2 separate regions of the Homo sapiens genome follow, and region 2 is linked to region 1. Evidence: fine-mapped expression QTL. A gene starts in region 1. The other region holds a variant in brackets. All regions are shown on one strand. Distances are between the middles of the regions.

Region 1 (5,391 bases):
CTCAGCCTCCCGAGGAGCTGGGACTACAGGCGCCCGCCACATTGCCTGGCTAATTTTTTTGTATTTTTAGTAGAGACGGGGTTTCACCGTGTTAGCCAGGATGGTCTCCATCTCCTGACCTTGTGATCCGCCTGCCTCGGCCTCCCAAAGTGCTGGGATTACAGGCCTGAGCCACCGCGCCTGGCCCAGTTAACGTATTTTTAGAAATGTATAGGCTCAGTAATTTGAATCAACTGCATATATAACAATTACCTTCTATTCAGAACAGAACATTATTTTTGCTAAATAAGAGTTTAAGTCACAGCAACCATTATTGGTGAATGAGGGGTTCCACGTAAGTAAATTTTCTGGGTAACTAAAATTTTTTCCACTTAGTGTTGGCTAAATTTTTACTGACATGCAAAATAACTTTAAAAAATGTATCCCATACTTGACATCTTTGAGGATTCTGACTGCTGCTAATTCCTCTCTCCTTTTTCTCTCCACTTCAATGGCTTTCATAGAATTTCATTCTCTTCATTCTCTTCTTTTCTCTGATGCCCTGCTAACCCTTTAAACAATGGCATTGTCGGGGGTTCTATCCTATGCCCTAATATTACTACACAATCTTCTTGAGCAGTGATGATTGCCATTTTGGTTTAAATGTACACTACAGTTAGTTAAAGACATGGTTTAACTATACACTATAACAACACACTATACACTGATGATTCCCAAATATACATCTTCAGCCGGGCTTCTCTTGAGCTTCCAACCTACATATGCAATTTATAACTCAACTCCAAGGCTTGGACAGGATGTGGCATGACCCCTTAAACTGTGATCCAATCAAACTCATTATCTCCAAAGCTGCTCTTCCTCATCTTGTCTTTGGTCCTAGTTAACGGGATCACTATTCTTCTAGCCACCCACGAAATCCAGAATCTTCCTCAACCTTTACACATTATCTCTCATCCCACACTGTCAGTTTCAAAGTATGCTAAATATCTCTTGTGCTCAACCCATTCTATTTCCAATGTTAATGTCCTTGTTCTTAGCTGTCATTTGCAACAAAATCTTCCTAGAAGCTCTGCCTCCATTCGGATCTCATTACCACTAAAAAAGTATTTTTGTTGTGCAAACTGAATGTCATTTCCAAGCCCAAAACCTTTCTGTGGCTGATATCTGTGTTACCTATAAGGGAAAGTCCAGTCTTTTTCACATGGCATACAAAGACCTCCACCCCGTTTTCTACTATTTCCTATCTCAACCCTTCTATCCTACATGCCTGTAATTTATATTTATTTGACATTTTGGAAACATGCTATGCTGTTTCCTACTTTTTGGCCTAACCCCCACTGCCAGTGGAATATGCTTCCCTGCCCCTACCCACTGATCCCACCCTTTTCTTTACCTTGAAAACTACTATTCATCCATTGGGACCCAACTTAAAAGCATGCTTCCTCCATGAAGCCTTCTTTGACCTTCCTCAGTAGAGTCATTCACTCCTCTAAATTACATACAGAGATGTAACACTGACCATATTCTAATGCAATTACTCCTTTACAACTCTATCTCCATTAGATTAAGCTCATTAGCGGAAAGGATCACGTCGTGTTTATCTCTGTATTTCCTCTCTCCAGTCCCAAGCAATAGTGAGGTGTTTACTAAATGTCTGATGGCTGGTTGTCTGCAGGCGTGGTTAAAGTTAGCTCTAATATCCCTCCTTTGGAATGAAATATGTATACTTTGTGATTACTGTGTTAATCAGAGTGCTTTTTGTTAACTGCCAGGTTTTGGTTATATACCTCATGTTTGACATTGTCAAGAGTCTGACTTCTGGATAAGTGGATTGTTCCTGTACCATGTACCTTCACAGCATATTCTATTCCAACTATGATCAAAATGACCGAACCACATTTTTCCATTAAGAGCTGTGTGCCTTTGAGTAAATTAGGTTACATGTGTTCCCTAAACAAGTTGTTACTTTTTCCTGACTTTATGTCTCTTCAAAATATATACCTCCCTCCTCTTTCACTCCCAATATTTTATCTGTTTCAAATCCTTTTTGGAACAGAGGTTTAAAAAATATACATGTATACCTTATTTAAATTGATACTACTGTTTTCTTTCCTTATTAAACACACATCCATGTTGTATTTATCTTTCCATTGTTACAATTTATCTCAAGGTTTTGCACTGATTTGACATAGATTTTTGCTAAAGTGTATCTAGGTATTTTTCTGATTTTACATTGCAATTGTAGTGTTGAGAGACTGCCAGGTGTTTACCCTAATGACATAGTTAATGTCTTTAAACTTAATTCTCAATCTACCTCACTTCTTGGTCCACAATCTCTCTGCTTCCCAAAGACCCCTCTTAATGAGTAATATTTGAAATTTGTTTTTCTGAGGCAAAATTAGTGTTTTCTAAAGTTTTGATCACTGATCTCAAAATCAAGCATTAAATAATGGGTATGATACTAAAAATAGAATATATTTTTTCTATTCCTTTTAAAGGTTATAAAATCACATTACCTGATTAGACTGTGATAATCTTAGGATGGTGGGAAATTCATCTTTAAACTCATCTACAAGGTCCATGATTGCTTTCTGGATCCCCTCGACTAAGACAAAAAGAGGTTAGGAAAAAGAAAACTTTGAAAACATCCCCTAAATGTTTCAAAAGAACATGAAACACTTGATCAAATTCCTAGATGACTCGGAAAGTAAAGGAACTCTAGGGGATCTTATTCCCAATTGTTCCCACACCCATACGCCCTTTACAACAAGATTGTGTATACTTCTTCCAGAAAAGTTCTTCAACACCTGCCCACATATCCACCCAACAGGTTTGATTGGCATGGTGAGTTCTTGCTTGGGTTCCTAGTCCTTAACAAGCTTGCAGGCCTGGGTAATGCTTGTCCTAGTCTGCCATTAGTGAAAGATGAGGGTAGCCTTCCACTTGGGAAAGCCAGCAAGGACAGAACTCACAGCTCACTGCTGGAATTCTTTGTTACTGTACAATAGGCTTCCGAGAACCTGCTACAGAATCTTCTGACATCACTCTGGCAGTGAGAGGAAGAGGAGTGTGTTTGGAGGCATAAGGGAAGGAGTGAGGGGATTGAATAATAAAGTACACTAAGGAGTTCTATGATATAAGTTGAAATTTGTCCCAAATTCTGCAGTGATACCACAAATAATGGATCATCTGAGAACAAAAGGTCCCTTTGAAAAAAAATGGCATGTGCTTTAAAAGAAATGCTTTATATATGATGCCAAATAGAAAAGAAACACCAGCAGTGAATTCAGAAAGACTTCTGAATAGATTGTTTTTGCTTCACCAATGAGGATCACTAGGTCAAACTCGGGCAAAACTGTAAAGTCTTTGGTTTCTCTGCTTTATAATCTCAATCTCTTTTCTTCATCTTTTACCCTCCTAGTACCCTCACATGTCAGATGACCATTAGTTCCCCCGATCAAATATGGGAAGAACTTGATACCATGCAGACTTGATTGACTGCCTAGTTTTATATATATATAGTTTGTTTGTTTGTTTGTTTTTTGAGATGGAGTCTTGCCCTGTTGCCCAGGCTGGAGTGCAGTGGCGCGATCTTGGCTCACTGCAACCTCAGCCTCCCGGGTTCACACCATTCTCCTGTCTCAGCCTCCCGAGTAGCTGGGACTACAGACACCCACCACCACGCCTGGCTAACTTTTTGCATTTTTAGTAGAGACGGGGTTTCACCGTGTTAGCTAGGATGGTCTCCATCTCCTGACCTCATGATCCGCCTGCCTCGGCCTCCCAAAGTGCTGGGATTACAGATGTGAGCCACCACGCCCGGCCGACAGCCTAGTTATATTTTAGTGTGAATGAAATAGTTGGTTAACCTGAATCCCATTCTAATTTGAAGCCCTCATATTTAATTGCAGCTAGACCACTTTCTTCAGCAAGCATAAAGCCACGGCTGCTGAAAGTGTCTTCATGGGAACAGTTTGGGAAAGAGAAATCTTCATCCCAGGATTCCTCTAGCATGGGAAGCCTGAAAATCCCCAGCTCTCATGGTGTTCTTAGTCCACAATCTGCCTTAGAACACCCTCCGCCATACCACATTCACCTCTCCTAACCAAAATAGAACCTGCTTGCCTCTCATGACTCTCATGGTTAAGATAACTATGCCCTTAACATTTGGAAAGTGCAATCCATCGGTACAAAGAAAATCATACTAGACAATGATGAATACACACGCTGGGAGTCTATGAGATAATGAAATACTTTATCTGTCCTAGCAAGATAGTTGGTCATCAGCGTCCACTGCAGATGAACACCTGGCAGATCCTTCTCTTTCTGGTCTTCCTCCCTGTTCTCCATTCTCCTCCCTTCCACCATCCCCTAGTTCTTTTTATCCACTGATTCCAATGTCATTGCCCAACTGGTTTTACCCAATTTTCTTCTCTTTTCATCAGTCCTCTCCCTCCTAGGCATCCTATAAAATTAACAAATCTAGAGGAAAAGCATTTCTCAGGCTAATGTTTACTGCACTTAAAGCATAAGCAACTCTTTGTGTTTGCTAACAACGTCCTTTTTGTCTTTTCTTACTTAAGAGCCCTCTCCCCAGAAGTAGAGTGGTGAAAAATGACAGACGGTGATGGAGTAAGAAAATCTCACCCTGCAGCACTTACATTATGACCTTATAATATTTTGGTTTGTGTTTAATTATCTTCTTATGCCAATAATCTTATGCATCTTATGTTATTTCAGATAATAAACTTAGACAAAAGAACCCACAATGTCTGTTTTTTTCTTGTTAATTCTTCATTATGTTATTCTTTAGAGTTCATAATAGAGTACCCCATAATTATAAAATAAACTAGGAAACAATTAAAAATATCTCCAAATAATTTTTATGACAGCTGTACAGATTTATCTGTACTTAAAAGGCTTTAATACAGAAGAACAGAACTTTTGTTTTGCACACAGCTTTGAAGAAAATGAACATTTTACATAATCACATATAGACAGTATAAACTTAGTGATAGAAATATAGAAATCTGGGGGTCAGTCAGACCTGGGTTTGAGTTTCAATTCTATCACTTACCAGGCTTTGCCGTGGGCAAATTACATAAGTTCTATAAGCCTCTTACCTTTTAAAAAGGAAACAATACTTGATGAACATTAAATACCCAATAAGTGGCAGGTTTCATTAAATATGCACTGACCTTTTGGTTTTGGAAATTTTGCAAAACTTGGGTAAAACTCAATGCTGGGCTTGCCCGATTCACCTGGGCTTCAGCATTTTGATTTGCACCAAACTGGCTAGAACCCTAACAACCTTCCTAATTGGATCCTTCCCTCAAACCTACTTCAAATTCAACAGAGATGAAGTCATACTCCTCACTTCATGTATTACCT
Region 2 (5,391 bases), 32 kb before region 1:
TCATGATATTCACAATAGTAAGAATAATATGGGTGTTAAATGTAAAAAGTCCTCAAATAGTATAAATAGTACCATTTAAGATACATAGAGGAAACTATTATTTGACATATAAAATTATACTTTTCTAAGCAAAATGCACAGCCATAATCATAGTTCTCTGAAACCTTTATCATTTAGCCCCAGTCTTCTCTGCTCCTTTTTTATCAGTCCCGTAAAAGTTCACCAGTTTGTCGGGTTGGAGGCAAACCTTGCAAAAACTGTAAGTTTGTAGTGACTCAAATTTGAGAAAGACCTGTATTTGGTTCTCATTTATTTGGGAGTTGGGAAAACATAATTAACTTTTGATATTATACTACATCTCTTGTATTTCGTTACTTTTTGATAGTAGTGCTTTTTTTTTTTTTTTTTTTTTTGGCCTGGAGGAAAACAACTATTCATTTATTTCCTCCTTTGGTGCCAAGTTTTGAAATTAGCTGTACAAAATTCTCAAATAGTTAATTCATGACCTATGCACAGGCACATTCTCTGAGGATAGAAAGGGCAATTTTGTTCCATTTTTCTTGGGTTTGGGGTCATTTGCTACATAAATATACATTAGGATACAACTTAAATCTTGAAAAGAATAATTTTAATTATAAGAAAAAAGTAAATACTTTTAGACATTTAAGAAATGTTTATTATCCCCTTGCTTTTCTTGATATATTTACCCTATAGTACATATATCCATGAATAATATACTGTTTGGTTTTGCCACTTTTGTGATAAAAACGGAAACATACTCTGAATTCCTTTTTAAATTTTTCACTTGCAATTATGTTTTTTGAAATTAAGCCAACTTGATGTAGAGATACATTTTTCACTGCTGTACAGCATTCCATTGAATGAACATACACATTTTCCATTCTACTGTTGATGGGTTTTGTGTTGTTTTTGTTTTTTGCTGTTATAACTATTCTTGTGTATGTTTCCTGGTGTACCTGTGTGCATTTCTGTGGCATATACCCAAAGTGGGATTATTATTATGTTTAACTTTACTAGGTAATGCCAAATTGTGGTAGCACTAATTTATGTTATCACTAGCAGTTCCATATTTTCACTAATACTTGGTATAATTTTTTGTCAGCCTGGTGGATAGAAAATAGTATCACATTAATGGCCTTGCTTTGCATTTCCTTTGCGTTTTCCTACTAATGAGATTGAGTGTCTTTACATATACTGGCCATTCAGATTTCTTTATTTGTGAAATGTTTGTTCATGTCTTGCCCATTTTTCTATGATTATTTGTTCTTTTTTTACTGGCCTATAGGAGTTCTTCACATATTCTGAATCTCAAGAGTTTGTCAGTTATATGTATTGCAAATTCCACATTTCTTTCTTTTCTTTTTCTTTAGCCTATTTCCCCTTATTTCAGTTCATTCCTTTGTCTGTTCCCATTTTTCTTATTACCCCTCTGTTCTGTCACAAAATGTGATGAAGGCTGCATGCCCAACTCTGAAGGCAAATACTACCACCTGATCAATTTGTGTTCTTTGAGTACCTGCCAAAATCAAATAAAACCAGATGACCATTCAGAGATAGTATTCTTGCCTCCTATCAGCCATAGCTAACCCAGAAAATCATGGCCATGGTCCTCTTTGCCTTTGCTTTAAAATAATAAACTTTTGCTTTTTTATTGTGAGATAATTTTTAAAAACAGCATATGTATTACTTTTCTATCCCCCCCTTTAAAAAAAAATTAGAGCAGAATTAAAAATGCAAACTTCAGAGTACAAATTTGACATCCCTATAATTTTCTAAGTTTGATGTGTGTAATGCCTTCTTTTATACATTGAATTCAAAGCCCCTGTCTCTCCCCATCAACACACATGCACACATGCACAAACATGAACACACATATCTCTCTACCTACACCTCAATTTTGGAGCCCAGCCTTACAATGATATCTGATATCTGTCTTCCACATGGCTCAGAACTATTTATCTCAAAATAGTGACCTATAAATTCTCTTTTTCTAAAGCTCACTCCTAACACACTAACAGAGATTTTACTCTTAATAATTTTTGTTTTATAAACTTACTTTTTAAATGAACCATGCTCTTTTTCTGCTAACATTTTAAAACTTCCAATCAGTTATATGGGATTAAATAAATATTTAGAGAAGCCATCAGGAAAATTATCTGCAGAAGTCCTAAAGTCACTTGGCACTTCCATGAAAACAATTTCCCTTTTTTGGGGAAGCGACTGGCCCATAGTGTGTAACCATTCTAAGCTAGGTACACCGAGGTACAAATGCCTTCTTTAAAGAAGTTGGATAGGGCCGGGCATGGTGGCTCACGCCTGTAATCCCAGCACATTGGGAGGCCGAGGCGGGCGGATCATGAGGTCAGGAGATCGAGACCATTCTGGCTAACATGGTGAAACCCCATCTCTACTAAAAATACAAAAAATTATCCGGGTGTGGTGGCGGGCGCCTGTAGTCCCAGCTACTTGGGAAGCTGAGGCAGGAGAATGACATGAACCCAGGAGGTGGAGCTTGCAGTGAGCCCAGATGGAGCCACTGCACTCCAGCCTGGGCTACAGAGTGAGACTCCGTCTCAAAAAAAAAAAAAAAAAAAAAAAGAAGTGGGATATATGTGTTTTTATGTAAAATGGTAACCTAAGACTTGAGTGGAATTACAATGCAGATTCCTTTTGATCAAGGAAAGGTACATTATCATGTTGCTTAACTCCTGTGAAATGCTACAGTATTACT[A/G]TATTTGAAGAAGGTGTGGATGATGAAATATCTTCCTAAAGTTAGAATATTTATTTGAAGTTGACAACTGATTTGTAATTTTGTTAAATATTTGTAGACAAGTGTGTGTTTAATATCTTGAGCATTCCACAGCAAACTTTTTTTAAAAAAATATTTTTAGAGACAGGGTCTCACTCTGTTGCCCAGGCTGGAGTACAGTGGTATGATCATAGCTCACTGAAGCCTCAAACTCCTGGGCTCAAGTGATCCTCCTCCCTCAGCCTCCCAGGCAGCCAACCCTACAGGCAAGTACCAACCCACCTGGGTAATTTTTTAAAAACATTTTTATGTAGAGCTGGGTCTCAGTATGTTGCCTAGGCTGGTCTTGAATTCTTGGCAATTGATTTTCCCACCCAGGCCTCCCAAAGTGCTGGGATTACAGGTGTGAGCCACTGGCCTGAGTCATTATTTTGATTCAAGGGCAGGATCAAACCTATAATCCTTAAGCCTGTTCCTAAAAATAATATTGAGATATTTCTTAGTCTTGATTTTTTTCCCACCTTTTAATTTCTATATTTGGCCAAAAGGATATTAAAGAGTGGAATAGGAGACAAACTTTAGAAATACAGGGAAAAGAGAGTAGTAATGGTTATATTCTGAATATAAGCTCTTACTTGGATACTAATCAGTATTTGATTTCTAGGAGGGTGGATGTATAGGGAGTAAGTGAACTTACAAAGAGAAAAGGGTACAGGGTAGGCACAACTCTTTATAGAACAACCAAAGTTTCAGGACAGTTTCCTAAGAACCTCGAGTTTTCTTCATGTATTATTTATTGTTTAGTACACAGACGTGACCAGCATTGGAATTTATGTGGCCTCATTGCCTGCCTTTTTTTTTCCAGGTTACCACCTATTTGCAATTCAAGGAGAATATAAGACAGAGAAGAAAGCTGTGAATGAATTTCATTTGATTAGCAATAGATTGGACACTCTACTGATCTTGCCTCTCTACAACCTCTCTTCCACCTGACCTCTAAATGTTGAAGTGTTTCAGGAATTGTCTTAGACCTTCTTCCTTATCTACACTTCCTCTCCAAGTGAGTCCATAGAATTCTATGACCTGGAAACTCCCCAGTTTTTCTCTCTAGAAATTCTCGACTTTAGTCTCATATATCTGGTTGTTGACTTGACATCTCTACTTGGATGTCTCTGAGATACCTTAAACTCAATATGTGTAAAATATATATAGCTCTTGATTTTCCATTCTGCAAAAATACCATTCATTTCTTGGCCTTTCTCCTCACAGTCTTTGGCACTACAGTTCACCTAGCTGCACAAACCTAAAACTTGGGAGTCATCTTTATTTATTTTTCTGTAGCATCTTCATTCAAGTTCATCAACCCAACTTCTCTGTACTATAAAATTAAAATAATACCTTTTTAGTAACATGGAGGATTAAAGGAGTTAATAAATAAATGTAGCCTTTGAATAGTGCCTGGCACATAGTTAACACAATATAATTGTAGCTACTACTGCTACTGTTGTTATTACTTTTTATCCCCTACAGCATCAACCCCCTGCGGCAAGCCACCACCTTTTTCATGGACCCCTAGCTTTCTGATTTCTGGGCATCCATTGTTGTTTTGCTATAATCCATTCTCCACAGAGCCGGGAGCATTCTTTCAAAAAGAAATCAATTCACACTTTCCTGCTTTATACTCTTCAGTGGCTTTCCTTTGCTCTTAGAGTAAAATCCATACACAGCACTGCACAACCTGGCTCCTGCCTGTTTACCAATCTTGCATATTATGTTCCAGTCTTCTGGAACACATTCACCAAGACTTTTCTTTCCTTCAGGCTTTTGTATTTGCTCTTCTTTCAGTATGGAATTCTCTTCCCCAAGCTGTTGGCATGTCTAGTTCATTTGCATTTTGGGCATTTCAGCTCAGCTGTCATCTCAGTGACCAGTTTTTATCTGAGGTAAGAAAATGAAAGGTTTTCATTCATACCCACCTTCTCTTGCTGTAATAGCTATCTGGTTGTGCCTGTAAGAGCCAACTGTGTACTCCAGGCAAAACCAAGTGGACCACCTTAGCCAAGAGGCTGAAGACTATTCAGACAATCAAAGAATCCTGCTTTCAGCAGAAGGCTGAAAACAATGCAGATAACTGAATGTTGTTTAGTGTTGAATTTGATAGGAAATAAAGGGATAGTGAAACTTAAATCTCTATGTTTTACAAGTTCTGAAATTTCCTTCTTGACCTTGAAATGAATCTAATACAACTCTAGCCTCAGATTGAGGAATCCTCCCTAATTTTGGCAGTCTTTAAGAGTCTCTAACGCAAAGTAATGACTACCTACTTAATATAATCCAGTATTTATGGCCGGGCGCAGTGGCTCACGCCTGTAATCCCAGCACTTTGGGAGACTGAGGTGGGTGGATTACTTGAGGTCAGGAGTTTGAGACCAGCCTGGCCAACACAGAGAAACCTGTCTCTACTAAAAATACAAAAATTAGCCAGGTGTGGTGGTGGGCTCCTGTAATCGCAGCTACTCGGGAGGCCAAGGCAGGAGAATCCCTTGAACCTGGGAGGCGGAGGTTGCAGTGAGCTGAGATCGTGCTACTGCACTCCAGCCTGGGTGACAGAGTGAGACTCT

Alleles and levels. Alleles are on the strand shown, and positions count from the first base shown. SD is a standard deviation of normalised expression in the study named.
For the expression in subcutaneous fat of the gene that starts at base 2,980 in region 1, A is the high allele of the variant in region 2 and G is the other (small effect, 0.33 SD a copy in GTEx).

The links. PIP is the estimated chance that this variant, and not a neighbour inherited with it, causes the effect.
Region 2: its variant is the best candidate, but not a certain one, in a credible set for the expression of SPATA9 in subcutaneous fat (GTEx, PIP 0.52).

What each region holds. Positions count from the first base shown.
Region 1 is chr5:95,680,012-95,685,402 of GRCh38, forward strand. It overlaps SPATA9 (spermatogenesis associated 9), which reads right to left and starts at 2,980. Exons shown (of 5, transcript NM_031952.4): 1 at 2,783-2,980; 2 at 2,517-2,605. The coding sequence starts at 2,843. It overlaps LOC105379090 (a long non-coding RNA gene), which reads left to right. Exons shown (of 2, transcript XR_948588.3): 2 at 4,584-4,762.
Region 2 is chr5:95,648,502-95,653,892 of GRCh38, forward strand. RFESD (Rieske Fe-S domain containing) reads left to right here. Exons shown (of 6, transcript NM_001131066.2): 2 at 3,636-3,830; 3 at 4,616-4,713. The coding sequence starts at 3,771. It also overlaps a transcript of SPATA9 not described here. Among named protein-coding and RNA genes, the nearest start is that of RFESD, 4.4 kb to the left of the region's middle. The variant A/G (reference allele first, on the strand shown) is at 2,753.